3 linked regions of the Homo sapiens genome follow. The protein of the gene in region 2 interacts with the protein of the main gene of each other region in a pairwise test. Each region holds a gene or a part of one and is shown on either strand. Other genes may lie near its edges.

Evidence for each region. Proteins that work in one complex are often made in the same cells at the same time.
Region 1: the proteins of ETS2 (region 2) and DMXL2 interact in a two-hybrid assay, tested with the Homo sapiens proteins (one large-scale study listed by BioGRID and IntAct).
Region 3: the proteins of ETS2 (region 2) and SERPINE2 interact in a two-hybrid assay, tested with the Homo sapiens proteins (one large-scale study listed by BioGRID and IntAct).

Annotation. Positions count from the first base shown.
Region 1 is NC_000015.10:51,616,272-51,619,771, forward strand, and holds part of DMXL2 (dmX-like protein 2), read right to left. Parts: intron 1-3,500. UniProt on the Homo sapiens protein: May serve as a scaffold protein for MADD and RAB3GA on synaptic vesicles. Plays a role in the brain as a key controller of neuronal and endocrine homeostatic processes.
Region 2 is NC_000021.9:38,822,929-38,825,455, reverse strand, and holds the end of ETS2 (protein C-ets-2), read right to left. Parts: 3' UTR 501-2,527; downstream 1-500. UniProt on the Homo sapiens protein: Transcription factor activating transcription. Binds specifically the DNA GGAA/T core motif (Ets-binding site or EBS) in gene promoters and stimulates transcription.
Region 3 is NC_000002.12:223,983,787-223,987,286, reverse strand, and holds part of SERPINE2 (glia-derived nexin isoform b precursor), read left to right. Parts: intron 1-2,336; coding exon 2,337-2,535; intron 2,536-3,500. UniProt on the Homo sapiens protein: Serine protease inhibitor with activity toward thrombin, trypsin, and urokinase. Promotes neurite extension by inhibiting thrombin. Binds heparin.

The sequences.
Region 1 (3,500 bases), on a different chromosome or scaffold from region 2:
GGACTAGGGGTAGATAGCATTAAAGGAAGCCTCAGGAATCATGAAATGAGAGGATTTGAGAGTAAAACTTGCAGGCAAACGAAAAAAAAAGAAATTTAAGAAAACAAAAACCCACACACACAAAAATAAGAAGTGCAGGCAACTGGTTTCATATTTACATCAAATTCCAGGATTACATGAGCTATCTTTAAGAGAGAGTGAATATAGTCATGTCACCTTTGTTAAGATGTACTTGTCCCTCAATACCAAGTTACATCATGGATCAGGGTTTCAGAGCACTAACATAATGCAAAAGGATTCTACAAACTCGAAAGGACTGAAAACCCTAAAACTTCTACTGAAATATTTGGCTTCCAAATTTGTTTTAAAAAATTACTGACAAATGGCCGGGTGCAGTGGCTCATGCCTATAATCCCAATACCTTGGGAGGCTGAGGCAGGAGGATCACTTGAGGTCAAGAGTTCAAGCCAGCCTGGCCAACATCGTGAAATCCTGTCTCTACTAAAAATACAAAAATTAGCCTGGCATGGTGGCACGCACCTGTAATTCCAGCTACTCAGGAGGCTGAGGCAGGAGAATCGCTTGAACCTAGGAGATGGAGGTTGTGGTGAGCAGAGGTTGCACCACTGCACTCCAGCCTGGGTGACAGAGTGAGACTCCATCTAAAAAAAAAAAAAAAAAAAAAAAAACTGACAAGCTAGAGAAGTCTGACTAAATCTGAATTTTAGATATTCTATATTATATCCCATTTTAAGTACTGCCTTGGTTTCACAGAAGGAAATTAAATTGGTCAGGCATGACTTGTTTTTCTACTGTGCCATTATGGTTGTCACCCAACATCCTGTGCTCTTTCAGATAATTAAATACTGAGACTCTGATTTGTTCTAAAAATTTACCAAGATCCAAGTTAAGATAATCTGATTATAATTTCTAAAGTAATATTTTAAATAGCCCAAATCCTAAGAACAGAAACTAAAATAAAGGCATTGCACGGGAAAAGGAAAGCTGCGAAAGGAGAACCTAAACACCATCACACTGGTCCCATCTCCCACCCAATACTGTACTATGACAGTCGCAGGCAACTATCATCTGCCAGGTGCCAAGGACCAAAACCTAATCAAGAGGCTTCTCCTCAGCTGTAAGCCCAAAGACTCATTCCTAGACCCACTACTTCATAAATGCTCTGAATGGCCTATCTACTGAGCCAGAAAGGAGGTCAGACTCCCCGACTGTGAGGTCTGATCAAATCTTGTAAATACAAGTGAGATCTGATCAAGTCTTGTAAATACAAGTGAGAAGCAATATACGATAAAGACTCCAGACCTACAACTTCAACACAACCACTTTATGTTTCTAGTCCATTTTCTCTTTTGACCCCTGAAAATCTCTAGAGAAGTCCATATAATTTTCATTCGTGGTCTAAATACTTAAAGAATATCTTTAAGAACTTCTTTTACAGATCAAAGACCTAAACATGTTTAAGTGATTTCACCAACACCATACAAGTAGTTGGTCTCTGACCTCCCATTTTTGGGGAAGACATTATTCAGAACCTTACCAGAGTTTCTGAGTAGTTGCTAGGAGTCTTCTTGCTACAAGCAAGAAGGCTAATTAACAATCTACGCAGGGACATAAGAACTTATAAACCCTATATTCACTTACTGGTTGACACTAAGCCCAAGCCCACAAGGTTTTAAATGTATCCGTTTAAACAAACAAGAAGCTACACTCCAAGAACAAAAAGGCCAATTTCTCTTAGAAAACAAGTCCATTCTAAATTCTTGACTTCTGTCTTTCACTTTCCTCTCAGCACAGGTTAACACATTAATAACCAGCCAGTACAGAAGCATGTTTCTAACCAACCCCTTGATTCCCCTGGCCAAAAGTTCTCTTAGTCTTCCTGAATTCCCACTTAAATGCTGGTAATATTGCACAGCTGGCCTACTGTGGTTAGGTATGTGTCTTTTACTCTCGTATTAGACTACCAGGTTCCTACACTTCTTCAATAAACTCCCTGAAATCAAGACTATGTCTTGTAATTCTTTTTTTTTTTTTTTAATACCCACAAAGCTTAGCACACCTATGTGTTCAACATTTGCTAAATGTATAAACTGGTTGATCATTTTCAAGGTTTGGTGTTACCATAACTCTAGGACTGAAATTTTATTCTACAATAGAGTTAAGACATATCTAAATGCCATAAAAGAGGTTATACAACATTATTTTCTAATTTTTAAATGAATGGTTTTCCATTTATTTCCAACCTTTTGTTGGTATTTTAATTTAAAAAAAAAATTGAATGTCAGAATACCAGGTACGTTTTCCTGAAAAGCTACAGGTAATGTTTGCATATTATATTTTTTCAACATTCTAAGAGTGTCTGTTATTTAATGAAGAAGTCCTGTGATTAAAAAGTAACTTTTGCAAAGAAAACAGTCACTCAATAATTTATCCTTCGTATTATGCCATTCCTTTGCTTCTGTTGTTCTTATCTTTCCAAACCTTACTCTTCCATAAAACCTCTTCTTGTTTTCCCAACTACAATCTCTTCCATCTGCCTTATGTTATAATTATATAAATCATTTTAATCTCTGCCAGTATATTATAAATTCCCTAAGAGTGCAAATGACTTACTAATTTTTGTAAACTTTGATCAATGTGTTGAAATCATGTCACACTGGAATAATAGTAACTGCCCCTATACATCTCAAAATAGTCTGCAAGCCTTAAGGCCAAATGAATTTTTAATTTAAAAAATCATCACGTATGATCATTATTTCAATTAATATTTTAATATGTGCAGTAAAGTTTAAAAAATAGCCAAGGACTATCTTTCAGAAAAGTAATAACATAAATAATGAGAAATTTACAATATCTGTTGCATAAACCCTCAAAACATTCACTGAAGGGTAGTAAGAAATGTCTTAAAGGCAAAATAAAGTATAATAAAGCTCATACACGGGAGAAGATCATCTCTTTGAACTACCAGAGATTTGACTTATTGCAGGATAACATTTCGAAAACCTAGATCTTACACTGAAAAGAACAAAATTGTTCAAAAGGTGATGTTTTAAAATGTGATATCTACAGCTACATTTACGAAATCACAATCGAATGTTTAAGGAAACAGCTGTATACTGCCTAAACACAAGTGAAAAGCATCATAGCTTACGTGATACCACTAAAACCACAGACATCAGCTGAGATTGTCCACTACAGACTGCAGTACCATGTCAATATTGCACAAATTGGGACATCACGACATCAAGTAGTCATTCACAGCCAACCAATCACGCCACCCACCATGCACAGCAAAATATATAACACACATTTCTTTCAATTATTACACTGTCATAAACTCAAAATCCTTTTAGAACAATTCTGTTCTTCAAAGATGTATCAATTTTAGACTCTGAAATAAAGTATGTATTGTATTTTGAAAAGGTTCTCAGGCTACCATGAAACACAACATCAGCTAAGAATCATGAGTTAGTTGCAAG
Region 2 (2,527 bases):
ATGAATATAAGCTTTTTGGCATACTCACTAATTTTGGAGCATGTAAAGAGAACAAATTTGAAAACAGGTGTCCTAAGACCACCATCACCTTACCAATGTCAGACTCCACTGAGGGGACAGAGTGTTGTGGCCTCAGTTCCAAAAGTACTTAAACCTCAAATTCTAATGTACTTAATATAAACATTCCAGAATCTCTCCTCTGTTATCTCTGCCAAGCTTCTGGCAAAGAAAGACATTTGAATCTTTCTATTATAACACTTTCTTAAAAGAATTTTTTGTTTTGAAAGAGAGCACTTTTTGGGAATTCTTTTAGGAAGGGCTCAAAGTTGATTCCAATTTGGGTTGTGGTTTCTAAGTGACTTGTGTATAAACCAGTTAAACAGAGACTTGCCGCTTGATGATGGAATGTTTTGAGTAGAGAATGGATCTGGGGTTAACATCCTTCCTCCAACTCCTTCATGCTGGGTGTGGAGAGGAAGAACGAGGACTATCACAAAGAATTTATATAAACAAAATACTTTATTATTGAGAGAGTAAAGGCCCAATTACAAAATTTTTATACTTAAGATCTGTTTATTACCATGCCAATGGTTTATAAGGACTGTAGTTTCCATAACTGTTAGGCTGAACCCCATGAAACTCCTTCTTTGTAGATAAAAGCCAGCCTAATATTGGCAATTTCACGTGGTTCAACCTCACATACAATGAGCCACTGCCTAGGATTCTTTTGGCAGCAAGATGTTCCCAGTCACATGTCTGTTTATATTATAAACAGATGTCCAAGTGATAAATACATCCCTCTTGAGAAAAACATCCTGTGCTTATGTATACTGGGAATGGTCTTTTGTGGGTATTGAGGCAGCGCAGCTCTGGCTTTGCTCTTCCCAGCTTGCCCGGCCACCCGATTCCTCAGTTTCATCACAGGAGGATTCTTTACAGATGTCAGCCACCCGTCCAAGGCCACGCAGCTAGTAAACAGACAAGCCTGTCGGACTTTGAAACCAACTTGACCGGGTCATTTATAAAGGCCGGGAATACACATGACTCAGGTGCTCTTTTGAAACGACTACAAAAGTCTCCATTTTGATCAAAACGTTTTCTCCGAATGAATGGCTCCGATGCTTTCTCTTTCCCATCTTAAGTCCCCGCTCTGTGCCTCAGAATAGTCTGTGTCCAAGAAAATAAGAATCACGTCATCTTGCTGTGGACACTGAGCAAAAAGGAGCAGCATGCTATTAAGATGGTTGAGACACACGAGTGAACAAAGATGGGACAAACTGTGCTTCGTTCAAGAGGTTTCATCAAGACCCCTACCGCCCCCCGTCCTTCAGCTCTGTACAGTAACTTTAACTTTACATAGAGCTGAGATAAAAATAAAGCTTTCTTACAAATTACATTTTTTTTCCAGTGAATTACTTTTGCAGTAAAAATAGCTGCTACATAAATCCCTCCTGATCTCTGAAAAGGAGTTGCATATTTCCAAAAATAATATTCTTATTTTAATCACACAGAAGAACGTGGAGCACAGGAAGGAAATGGCTGGGTGGTCAGAGAGAGGTGAGCTGTCGGAGAAACACAGTTAAACTAAAAAATAAAATCCATTTTGTGTATAAACTGACTTAAACGCATGCAAAGAAGTGGAAAACATATGCCATTTGTCAAGAAAAATACTGCTTTATAGCTTTTACTTTACAATTAAAGGAGAAAGCAGAGGCCAGATATAAGCCCAGATAATAACATTTAAGTTTCTCATAAAAACTCCCAAATGTACAAAGTCCTTGCCAGACAACCAAGGCAAGAAAACCCCCCAAAAACAAACAAACAAACAAACAAAAAAACACAAAAAGCAGGGATTACCCCCCACAGGCCTTATCCCTGTAAGTCTATTAAATGTAAATAATACATACTTTACAACTTCTCTTAGTCGGCCCTTGGCAGATTAAATCTTTGCAAAATTCCATATGTGCTATTGAAAAATGAAATAAAACCTCAGATGTCTGAATTCTTATTTCAAATACAGTTATATAATTATTTTAAATTACAATATACAATTTCTGTTAAATACAACTGTTAAGGGATTCTGAGAACAATTATAAGATTATAATAATATATACAAACTAACTTCTGAAATGACATGGTTGTTTCCTTCCCACCCTCCTACCCTCTCAAAGAGTTTTTGCATTTGCTGTTCCTGGTTGCAAAAGGCAAAAGAAAATCTAAAAATAGTCTGTGTGTGTCCACGACATGCTCGCTCCTTTGAGAATCTCAAACAGCCAGAACCATCCCGTCCCACGGACTGCCAGGCGCCAGGACGGCTTCCTGGTGCCTCTTTCTCGACCATTTTCACTTAAAAGCACTGTGAGTAGAATTAGCTGTGCCGTTGCTGCCACAAGGGAGGCAGCCTGGTCAAGAGGCGTGGTTTGGGATGCAATAAGGCCACTGCTTCTTGGCCACTTTCCTGGACATTTTCAATCCTGCCTTTCCTGGGTCCTCGGAGCAGCTGGTCAGGATGGGCTTCCCACTCAGT
Region 3 (3,500 bases), on a different chromosome or scaffold from region 2:
AAGAAGTGAGGTATTTTACAAAGCTTCTTACATCAAAAGACGGCAGTTTTTGCTATGGGCCAGCTTATGCTGAGCACTTTGTATGTGTTGTCTCAATGAATTTTCATAGCTCTGTAAAGTAGGTGCTATTATTGTAGGCTTTTACAGATAAAGAAACTAAGACTTGGAGTCAAGGAACTTGCCAAAGTCTCAGAGCTAGTGTGCTACAAGTGCAGGATTTGAATACAGGTCTTATAACCCCAGATCTCGTGGCTTTGGCACGTGTCCTCTATAAAAGGATGCAGTACTTGAGTGACCAGGTAGAAAGACAGAAAAGGTGTTATTTTATCTCCCAGCTCCTCAAGGCACCAAATAAAGGTAAGCATGCGTATGTCTGATGCACCCTGGCTACCACTGGTCATCAGCTTCTGTGGTCAGAAGCAGAAGGAGTGGGGGGAAATCAGTCATCAAGCAGAGGTGACTGGATGCGGTTCATGGTTATTAATATTACTGATCAGTTAATAATGGGTCCAGCCAAGGATGGATTAACTGGTGAAGCTAGATGATCTCTCTCCTCCCTTGAACACATTCCAGCTCATAACTTTTCATTATTCATTACTTCAATCCTCCTTAACAGAAATAGTAAACATTTCTAGAAGCAGTTAACACCTCCAGGTCCTTATTTCATGCCCTGGAGCAATCACTTATTAACCACTTCCCATATTTCACAGTTTCTGAAAATTAGCTCCGCCAGAATAGAGATTTAATGTTTTCTTCAAGGATTAAAGAGCTCATTAGGAAGTGATTTTTTTCTCACTTTCCCATTGATTTTTCCGTTTCTGCTGAGACCATTTTGTTATGCAGGCTAAGAGTAAAGACGAAGAATCCTCTCTTTCATTCTTAGGTTGCCGCAAGACAGAAGCCAGGCTTGGGTGAGAGTTCAACACACATGGGAGCTGAGGCGAGCTGCACCCGGGTTACTGAACAGCCCTGCAGGAAATGCAGTGTGCTAGGACCAGGAGAGCCCCAGTTCCTCTGCCAGTTCTCTATGTTGTTTCTTCCTTAGGGAAAAACTGTAGTGTCATCCTGTGGTGCCATATATTCTAATAACCTCAGTATTTTTATGATATTTCAGTGTTCATCAAGTACACTCTCTTTCCCTCTCTTGGTATCTTTCTCTTCATCTCTCCCTCTGTCCATCCCTCCCAACCCTGTTCTATGGAGAACTGGCATATTGAAGTTCCCTGTCTCAAAGGCAGTGATTGGCACATGTCATCTCCAAAGAAAAGATCAGTGAAAATCGTGCAAGAAACTTGCTTTCTCTCTTCTTGTTTGCTGAACTCCCTAAGATGTGGAATCTGTTTTGTCTATAGAGCATCTTGCAGGTAGACTGTTCTCCAAATAACATTTGAGAAATGCTGGCTTAAATTATTCTTGGGTTTTCATTAGTAAGTAGAAGTACCATAAAGTATCTAAAACTCCAGTGGTGATTACTGGAATGGGTGAAGAGTGAATAGGGCAGGGTGGTGAAGTAGGAGGAAGACAATCCTTGGCATTAGACTCTCCTGGCTCCTCACTTCTTAGCCGTGCATCCTTTGGAGGTTACTTCATTTCTCTAAAGGTGGCTTTCTCAACTGCAAAATAGCACTGCTTACGCCTACCCCGTGAGGTGCTGTAGATCCTCAGCCTGTTGAAGGGTTGATATGGGCCTGGCACAGAGTGAGCCCTGTGGATGCTCTGTATCCCTGTCTCTCTTCACCTGCACATGTAGGCTTATCCAAAATGAGGACTAGAGGTAATAAAATTGCACCATGTTGGGATTCCTGCTCAATGAGTAAATTTTAGCCGCTCTTGTCCCAAAAACAGCAAAATGGGTAATTATGTGAGATAATGGATATGTTAATTTGCTTTTTCATAGTAACTATTTTACTATCTATATGTATCCCATAACGTCATATTGTGTACCTTAATATACACAATACACTTTATTTAAAAAAAAAAAAAAAAGGAATGATTCTAAGGCAGCTTGAATGTATTCTTTTATTCATGTGAGGGTCAACTTCTTGCAAAGCACTGAATTTTAAGCACTTTGTGATTTAGTTAAATTCTCCTTAACAGAATTAAAGTGATTTCAGTGATTCCCAAAGGCATTCTGTCTAGACTGAAGAAAGGAGAATTCTTCACTGGGGAAGGAAGAAATAATTGTCCTTGTCTTTGTCCTTCTAAGGAAGCTATTTGTGGAAAAGGGAAGTTCTCCAACTGAGTTGCTCTCTGAAGCTATCCCGGTGACCAGCAAGCACTCATCCTGCTTCTAGAAGTCAACAAGGATACACTGAACCTGCTTCTGATTTCTTTAGGGTCGACAAGTGCCCCCAATGATTTATGGTACAACTTCATTGAACTGCCCTACCACGGGGAAAGCATCAGCATGCTGATTGCACTGCCGACTGAGAGCTCCACTCCGCTGTCTGCCATCATCCCACACATCAGCACCAAGACCATAGACAGCTGGATGAGCATCATGGTGCCCAAGAGGGTGCAGGTGATCCTGCCCAAGTAAGTGGCCCCTTCCCCTCAAAGAAAACAGTGGCATTATTCAATCAGCAGGTGTTATGTCGGACACCAGACAACATGAGGCGAAAATATGGCACATCATGAAGCCTGTTCTGTTCTGCAGAAATTTCATGGTGGGATTACGAGGCCGTGCTTTTCTAAACGCTTTTATTCAATGCCTGTGCTTCCTGTATGGTAAGATATGGATCATAAGAAAGGAGAGAGGGCAACCTTGGTCTCTAAACCTCCACATGAGCATAAGCAGTTCATGGTACTGCAGGGGCTTTTTGACATATCTCATTGTATTTAAAAGACTGAAAACACACGTGTGTCATCATAGTATGGATGAAAGTACAGTGAGGTTTAATAGAACTCCATGTGCTTTCATAAGGAGCTTCATTTTAGTTATTTATTTATTTAACTAGAAGTTCATGAAGACCAAGGCAGCCAGTTTTTCTATTATACCCTAAGAGTAAGACAAAGATGGAATTTGAGCTGTTATGACTTGAAGCCATGGGAAAAGTAACCCCAAATCCTGTATGAATCTTCATGTTCTAACAGGTCAGAGAATGCTTTGTCCAGAACTGTGAAGAAGCAATGAATGTTGTTCCCTTTCTATGAACTTTTCAACATTGCTGCCTTCCCACCATCCAGAGCTTTTAACAACCCAGGTCTTGGTGGTAGTGGAGAGTTCTAATAGCTTTTGATTCTTTGGTCACCGAGTTAAGTAATCAGAGTAAGACATTCACAATAAGTATTACTAATTCTCTCAAGATTTTTTTTTTTTGTAAAATAAGCCTTCAAGTAGGCAATGCTTGATATAAATAAATAAATAAGATGGTGGCATCGTAGGCCTCAATGGGTGAAGAACAGGTTCTTTACCATTATAGCCCATCTGTGGTGAGAATCTGCCCACGTCTCCTTAGTGCTCTTCCACAGGATGAGATCAAATCTGATAAAGCATCCTC